Linked DNA regions of Homo sapiens. The protein of the gene in region 1 interacts with the protein of each later gene in a pairwise test. Each region holds a gene or a part of one and is shown on either strand. Other genes may lie near its edges.

The links. Proteins that work in one complex are often made in the same cells at the same time.
Region 2: the proteins of SLC10A6 (region 1) and YIPF1 interact in binary tests that used the Homo sapiens proteins (3 or more experiments, as listed by UniProt).

What each region holds. Positions count from the first base shown.
Region 1 is NC_000004.12:86,835,675-86,839,411, reverse strand, and holds part of SLC10A6 (sodium-dependent organic anion transporter), read left to right. Parts: intron 1-3,737. UniProt on the Homo sapiens protein: Transports sulfoconjugated steroid hormones from the extracellular compartment into the cytosol in a sodium-dependent manner without hydrolysis.
Region 2 is NC_000001.11:53,879,798-53,883,501, reverse strand, and holds part of YIPF1 (protein YIPF1), read left to right. Parts: intron 1-225; coding exon 226-389; intron 390-3,704.

The sequences.
Region 1 (3,737 bases):
TGGTGTGAGCATAGCTCACTGCAGCCTCAAACTCCTGAGCTCAAGCCATCCTCCTGCCTCAGCCTCCCGAGTAGCTGGGACTACAGGTGTGTACCACCACATTCAGCTAATTTTTGTACTTTTTTTTTTTTTTTTTTTGTAGAGACCAGGGTCTCTCTATGTTGCTCAGGCTGTTGTTAAACTCCTGGTCTTAAGCAATCCTCCCAATTCAGCCTCCCAAATTGCTGGAATTACAGGCATGAGGCACTGCACCTGGTCTGATTCCTTTAAAAAGAAAAAATAATGAAAGAAAAAAATCCTATTGATTTAACAAACAATCATGAAATAAATGGACTGCTTAAAAGAAAAATAAAAGAGTAGAAGGATGTACACAAATACTTGCAAGTTATCTAAGTTTGGATTTCTGAAAGGAGCACCAATCAGCTAAATATTTGCTTCTTAAAATTTTACTTGCTTTTGTCTGGGAAGAGCATAATTTTTTTTTTTTTTTTTTTTTTTTGAGACACTGTCACCCAGGCTGGAGTGCAATGGCATGATCTCGGCTCACTGCAACCTCCATCTCCCAGGCTCAAGCAATTCTCCTGCCTCAGCCTCCCGAGTAGCTGGGATTACAGGCGTGTGCCACCATGCCCGGCTAATTTTTGTATTTTTTTTAGAGATGGGGTTTCACCATGTTGGCCAAGCTGGTCTCGAACTCCTGACCTCAGGTAATCTGCACGCCTTGGCCTCCCAAAGTGCTGGGATTACAGGCATGAGCCACCATGCCCTGCTGGGAGAGCATAATTTTATAGAAAGTCTCTTTTTCTGGATTGCTATGGGGCTGTTTACCATTTGAACTAAGTATAAAGGGGTCATTTCAGTAAGATTTTTACCAATGTTCACCTGGAGATACGTGACATATGACGGAGACAGAGAGAATATTTCCATAGCACCAGTGTGTTGACATTGGTTCATTCTTTGATTCATACATTTATTCAGTAAGTATTTAACGAGCTCTTCCAATATGCTGCAGCGTGAGACTATGCCAGGTCTCCTAGAGATGGAGAGGAAAATAGGACCTGGCTGTCATGCCACTCACTCTGGCACAGATGGACAGGTACATAAGTACTTGTGTAGGGTACAGCATGTGTATAATTCATGAGCCAATGTCAATAAAACCATGTCCAGAGGGCCATGGATTCAGAATCCTAGAAGCAGGATCGCTAATTTTCCTAGATATTGCCAGACACCCTCTGTGGTGTACCATTTTTACCAGCAATGAGTGAGAGCACAGAGGGAATCTTTTTAGTATCATTGAAGTAAAACAGATGCTGCTTTGTCAAGAGTATAAACATTCTTCTGGCAGAAAATGTTAAAGTAGTCATAGACGTATTATTTTATAGACAGGGTAATTGGATGGAAGCAATGGTGATATATATTAGGAGGAAGAGTGACAGATGACTTGTAGACCCAATAAAGTGCTGAAGGACCTTCTGTCTATGCAGAAGACCTTGACGTATGAAGGGCCTCCTCCCTCTCCTTTGTAGAGCAGGAGGGCAGTCTGCTTCTCAGTCTGTCAGTCATTTGTGCCTTGAGCACAGAATGAGCACAGTGTCTATAAACAGTTTGTACATGCTTAAACAGATTGTGTAATTTTTTCCAGCAAATTGAAAGATAAAATATTTGACTGGTCTGATGGGTATCTTCTTTCCATTTATTTTCTTTCCCCTAATTTTACTAATGCATTCTTTCACTGGTTCTATCACTCAGGTAGGTACAAAATACAGCCTTAACTTGCGATTTGGGAGTGAGACTGAGATGGAAAGAATAGATTTGGGATGGAAGGCACCAAAAAGTGGGGTAAGGTTGAATATTTCTTCAGTTCTCATCCTCCCTGATTTTTATTGGCTTTTAGCCTTCATTTGGGAGCTTTCTTTTCTTAGCTTTCATGAAATATAACCTCCCAGCTCTCCACTGACTTCTTTTTTAAATTTTATTTTTAATTGACAAGTTAAATTATGTATATTTATGGTGTACAACATGATGTTTTGCTTACTTGCTTCTCAAATCCCAGCCTGCCTGCCTGCCTTCCTTCCTTCCTTCCTTCCTTCCTTCCTTCCTTCCTTCCTTCCTTCCTTCCTTTCTTTTTCTTTCTTTCTTTCTTTCTTTCTTTCTTTCTTTCTTTCTTTCTTTCTTTCTTTCTTTCTCTCTCTCTCTCTCTCTCTCTCTCTACATGCACCATGGGCTCTTCTTCCTCTCCCTGGTTTAGAGCAAAGGAGGCTTTACAATATATAAAATATTAACTATCAGTTAATGTAACTAAGTGCTTTTCCCTAAATAAATTTAGACCAAAAATATATATGGAAAATACAAAAACACAGTATATTATGGCCGGGCGTGGTGGCTCATGCACTTTAGGAGGCCGAGGCGGGTGGATCACCTGAGGTTAGGAGTTCGAGACAGCCTGGCCAACATGGTGAAATCCCATCTCTACTAAAAATACAAAAATTACCTGGGTGTGGTGGTGGGCATCTGTAATCCCAGCTACTCAGGAGGCTGAGGCAGGAGAATCACTTGAACCCAGGAGGTGGAGGTTGCAGTGAGCCGAGATTGCGCCACTGCACTCCAGCCTGGGCGACAGAGTGGGACTCCATTTCAAAAAACAAAACAAAACAAAACCCCAAAAAATCTGCAACAAATTACAAATGTGTGAAGCAGTAACTTAGTTCATATAATGTAATAACAATATAGTAATTGTCTTAGTCCATTTTGTGCTGCTGTACAGGATACCTGAGACTGGTTAATGTATAGAGAAGAGAAATTATTCCCTTACATTCTGGAGGCTGGGAAGTCTAAGATGAAGGTGCTGGCATCTATTGTCTGGTGAGGTCCTTCTTGCTCCTCACGTGGTGGAAGAGAGAAGGGCAAAAAGGAACAAACTTCCTTGGTGGAGTCCTCTTAAAATAGCATTAATTCATTCATGAAGGTGGATTCATTGTGACCTAAACACCTCCCAGAAAGCTCCACCTCTCAATACTGTTGTCTTAGGGATTTGATTTCCAACCTATGAATTTTGGAGGACACATTCAGACCATAGCAGTAATCACGATACACAGTTTTTGAGGACTTCAAACCAAGTACTCTTCCCCCTCTGTCACAGACATTATGTACTTAAAAGTTCTTAAGAACCATTGCGCTTAAAATGTGTTAGCCTTTTGACTTAGAAACAATTAACCTCAATAATAACAGAGATAAACAAACCAGTTTTCCAGTAGAAATCATTCTGGATTTGTTGAACAAAGACCACAACTTCCTTCTGATGGTCTCAGTTGTTTTCCTGGTAAAGCTATGTAGCATGGCTGTTGGTTTTGGTTTGGTTCGTCCGGCTCACAAACCCACATTTCACTTTCCAAGGTGGCCAGAGACAACCCCAGTAATGACACAGATAAACAGACTGATTGTCTTTAGAAATCTTTCCAGGTTTGTTCACCAAAGACTGGATGTCCCACTATCACCTTACTTAACACAACCCCTCTAACTGATGCTAAGTGACTCAGCTTTTTTGTATATCACACCATCATTTTGAAGCCTAGAAATCTTACTTTGTACTCTAACTCATCACTCTACTTCAATCTCAAATCTCAGTCCCTTCCTTTTCTTTTCTTTTCTTTCTCTCTCTCTCTCTCTTTCTTTCTTTCTTTCTTCTCCTTTTCTTTCTTTTCTTCTTTTCTTGTGTCTTTTCGTCTTTCTGTCTTTCT
Region 2 (3,704 bases), on another chromosome or scaffold:
GAACCAAAATCTAGGTCTGACTCCAAATTCTGTTGTCTTCATAGTCATTTTTCTATATCAGATTGATCTCCTGATGAGATTTTTTGTTTTTCAAAGCTTTTGCCCTTTGTATCAGGTAGGGTCTATAGCAAAGCTGAGGTTGTGACAGCTTGTCTTTAAATTCAAAGTATAGCATTTCTAGTGTGGGTAAGGTTTCTGAGGCCCGTGTGCTCTAATTGATTTCAGAATTTGGCAATGCAGCCACTTCTCTGACAGCAAACCCAGATGCCACCACAGTAAACATTGAGGATCCTGGTGAAACCCCAAAACATCAGCCAGGATCCCCAAGAGGCTCAGGAAGAGAAGAAGATGATGAGTTACTGGGAAATGATGACTCTGACAAAACTGAGGTTTGAACTTGTCTTTGAGATATTTTTTAAACAATTTTTAAAGCTTGTTTATGTGCTTATTCACTGTCTACTGTGTGCCAGGTACAGTGTCAGGCAATGACAGCTCAGAGGTAAATGACACATGGCCTCTTCCTTGGTGGGGGAAACAGGCAAACAGACCATTACTTTCCGTAAGTACACTTGTGGAGGGGAACACTGGGGTAGTGAGCAGAGATCCTAGCTTATGGAATGTGGGACTCCCATGCTCAATATTTTCTAATATTAGAGTAGGAAAGAACCTTCATGGCCCTCTGTTTTAGCCTCTCTCCTGAGATATTGATGCTGTCCTTGCTATGTAGGAAAGATAACACTTGGAGCCAGGCGTGGTGGCTCACGCATATAATCCCAGCATTTTGGGAGGCTGAGGCGGGCAGATCACTTGAGCCCAGGAGTTCGAGACCAGCCTGGGCAACATGGTGAAACTCCACCTCTACAAAAAGTACAAAATATTAGCCGAGTATGGTGGTGGACACCTGTAGCCCCAGCTACTCGGGAAACTAAGGTGGGAGGATTGCTTGAGCTTGGGGAGTAGAGGTTGCAGTGAGCTGAGATTGCACCACTACACTCCAGCCTCGGCAACAGAGTGAGACCCTGTCTCCAGAAGAAAGAAAAAAAAAAAAAGGAAAGATTGAAAACACTTGCTTGAGTACCTCCAGGAATGGGCTGTTTACCACCATGTAAGGCAGTTGCTGCCACTGTCGACTTTAATTGTGAAAATGTTTTTCTTTAATGTTTTTTCTTCGACTTTTATTTTAACTTCAGGGGTCATGTGCAGGAGGTACAGGTTTGTTACATAGGTAAACATGTGCCACAGTGGTTTGCTGCACAGATCACCCCATCACCTAGGTATTAAGCCCAGCATCCATTAGCTCTTCTTCCTGATGCTCCCCCTCCCATGTGTCCATGTGTTCTCACCATTCAGCTCCCACTTATAAGTGAGAAGATGTGGTGTTTGGTTTTCTGTTCCTGTGTTAGTTTGCTAAGGATAATGGCTTCCAACTCCATCCATGTCCCTGCAAAGGACATGATCTCATTCCTTTTTCTGGCTGCGTAGTATTCCATGGTTGTATATATACCATATTTTCTTTATCCAGTCTATCATTGATGGGCATTTAGGTTGATTCCGTATCTTTGCTATTGTGAATAGTGCTGCAGTGAACATAAATGTGCATGTATCTTTATAATAGAATGATTTATATTTCTCTGGGTATATACCCAGTAATGGGATTGCTGGGTCAAATAGTATTTCTGCCTCTAGGTCTTTGAGGAATCGCCACACTGTCTTCCACAATGGTTGAACTAATTTACACTCCCACCAACAGTGTAAAAGCATTCCTTTTTCTCCGCAACTTCACTAGCATCTGTTGTTTCTTGACTTTTTAATAATCACCATTCTGACTGGCATGATATGGTGTCTCATTGTGGTTTTGATTTGCATTTCTCAAATCAAGATATTGAGCTTTCTTTCATATGTTTTTTGGCCACATGTATGTCTTTTGAGAAGTGTCTGTTCATGTCCCTTGCCCACTTTTTAATGGAGTTGTTTTTTCCTTGTAAATTTGCTTAAGTACTTTGTAGACTCTGGATATTAGACCTTTGTTAGATGGATAGATTGCAAAAATTTTCTCTCATTCTGTAGGTTGTCTGTTCACTCTGAAGATAGTTTCTTTTGCTGTGCAGAAGCTCTTTAGTTTAATTAGATCCCATTTGTCAATTTTTGCTTTTGTTGCAATTGCTTTTGGTGTTTTCATCATGAAATCTTTGCCCATGCCTATGTCCTGATTGGTATTCCCTAGATTTTCTTTCTTTTTCTTTTTTTTTTTTTTTTTGAGATGGAGTCTTGCTTTGTCGCCTAGGCTGGAGGCTCATTGCAACCTCCGCCTCCTGGGTTCAAGCGATTCTCCTGCCTCAGCCTCCCAAGCAGCTGGGACTACAGGCACGTGCCACCATGCCCAACTAATTTTTGTATTTTTAGTAGAGACGGGGTTTCACCATATTGGCCAGGCTGGTCTCGAACTCCTTACCTCATGATCCACCCATCTTGGCCTCCCAAAGTGCTGGGATTACAGGCATGAGCCACCGCGCCCAGCTGGTATTCCCTAGATTCTCTTCTAGGGTTTTTTTAGTTTTGTGTTTTACATTTAAGTCTTTAATCCACCTTGAGTTAATTTTTGCTTATGGTATAAGGAAGGGGTCCAGTTTCAGTTTTCTGCATATGGCTAGCCAGTTCTCCCAGCACTATTTATTGAATAGGGAATCCTTTCCCCATTGCTTGTTTTTGTCAGGTTTTTCGAAGATCAGATGGTTGTAGACGTGCATTCTTATTTCTGAGTTCTCTGTTCTGTTTCATTGGTCTATGTGTCTGTTCTTGTACCAGTACCATGCTGTTTTGGTTACTGTAGACTTGTAGTTTAGTTTGAAGTCAGGTAGCATGATGCCTCCAGCTTTGTTCTTTTTGCTTAGGATTGTCTTGACTATTTGGGCTCTCTTTTGATTCCATATGAATTTTAAAATAGTTTTTTTCTAATTCCGTGAAGAATGTCAATGGTAGTTTACTGGGAGTGGCATTGAATCTATAAATTACTTTGGGCAGTATGCCATTTGCACAATACTGATTCTTCCTAACTATGAGCATGGAATGTTTTTCCATTTGTTTGTGTCCTCTCTTATTTCTTTGAGCAGTAGTTTATAGTTTTCTTTGAAGAGGTCCTTTACTTCCCTTGTTCCTAGGTATTTTATTCTTTTTGTAGCAGTTCATTCATACAAAAGAACGAGAGTTCATTCATAATTTGGCCCTCTGCTTGCCTGTTGTCGGTGTATAGGAATACTAACAATTTTTGCACATTGATTTTGTATCCTGAGACTTTGCTGAAGTTGCTTACCAGCTTAAGAAGCTTTTGGGCTGAGATGATGGGGTTTTTTAGATATAGAAACATGTCATCTTGCAAACAAAGGTGATTTGACTTACTCTCTTCCTATTTGAATACCCTCTTCCTATTTGAATACCCTTTATTTGTTTCTCTTCCCTGATTGCCCTGGCCAGAACTTCTAATACTATTGAATAGGAGTGATAAGAGAGGGCATCCATGTCTTGTGCTGGTTTTCAAGGGGAATGCTTTCCTTGGTTGGGGATGGGTGTTCCTTTGTCTCCGTGCTGCTCCTGGGTGAGCCATCGCCCCACCCTGCTTTTCTTCATTCTCCGTGGGTCGAGCTACTTGCCTAGTCAGTCCCAATGCAAGAACCTGGGTATTTCAGTTGAAGGTGCTGAATTCATTC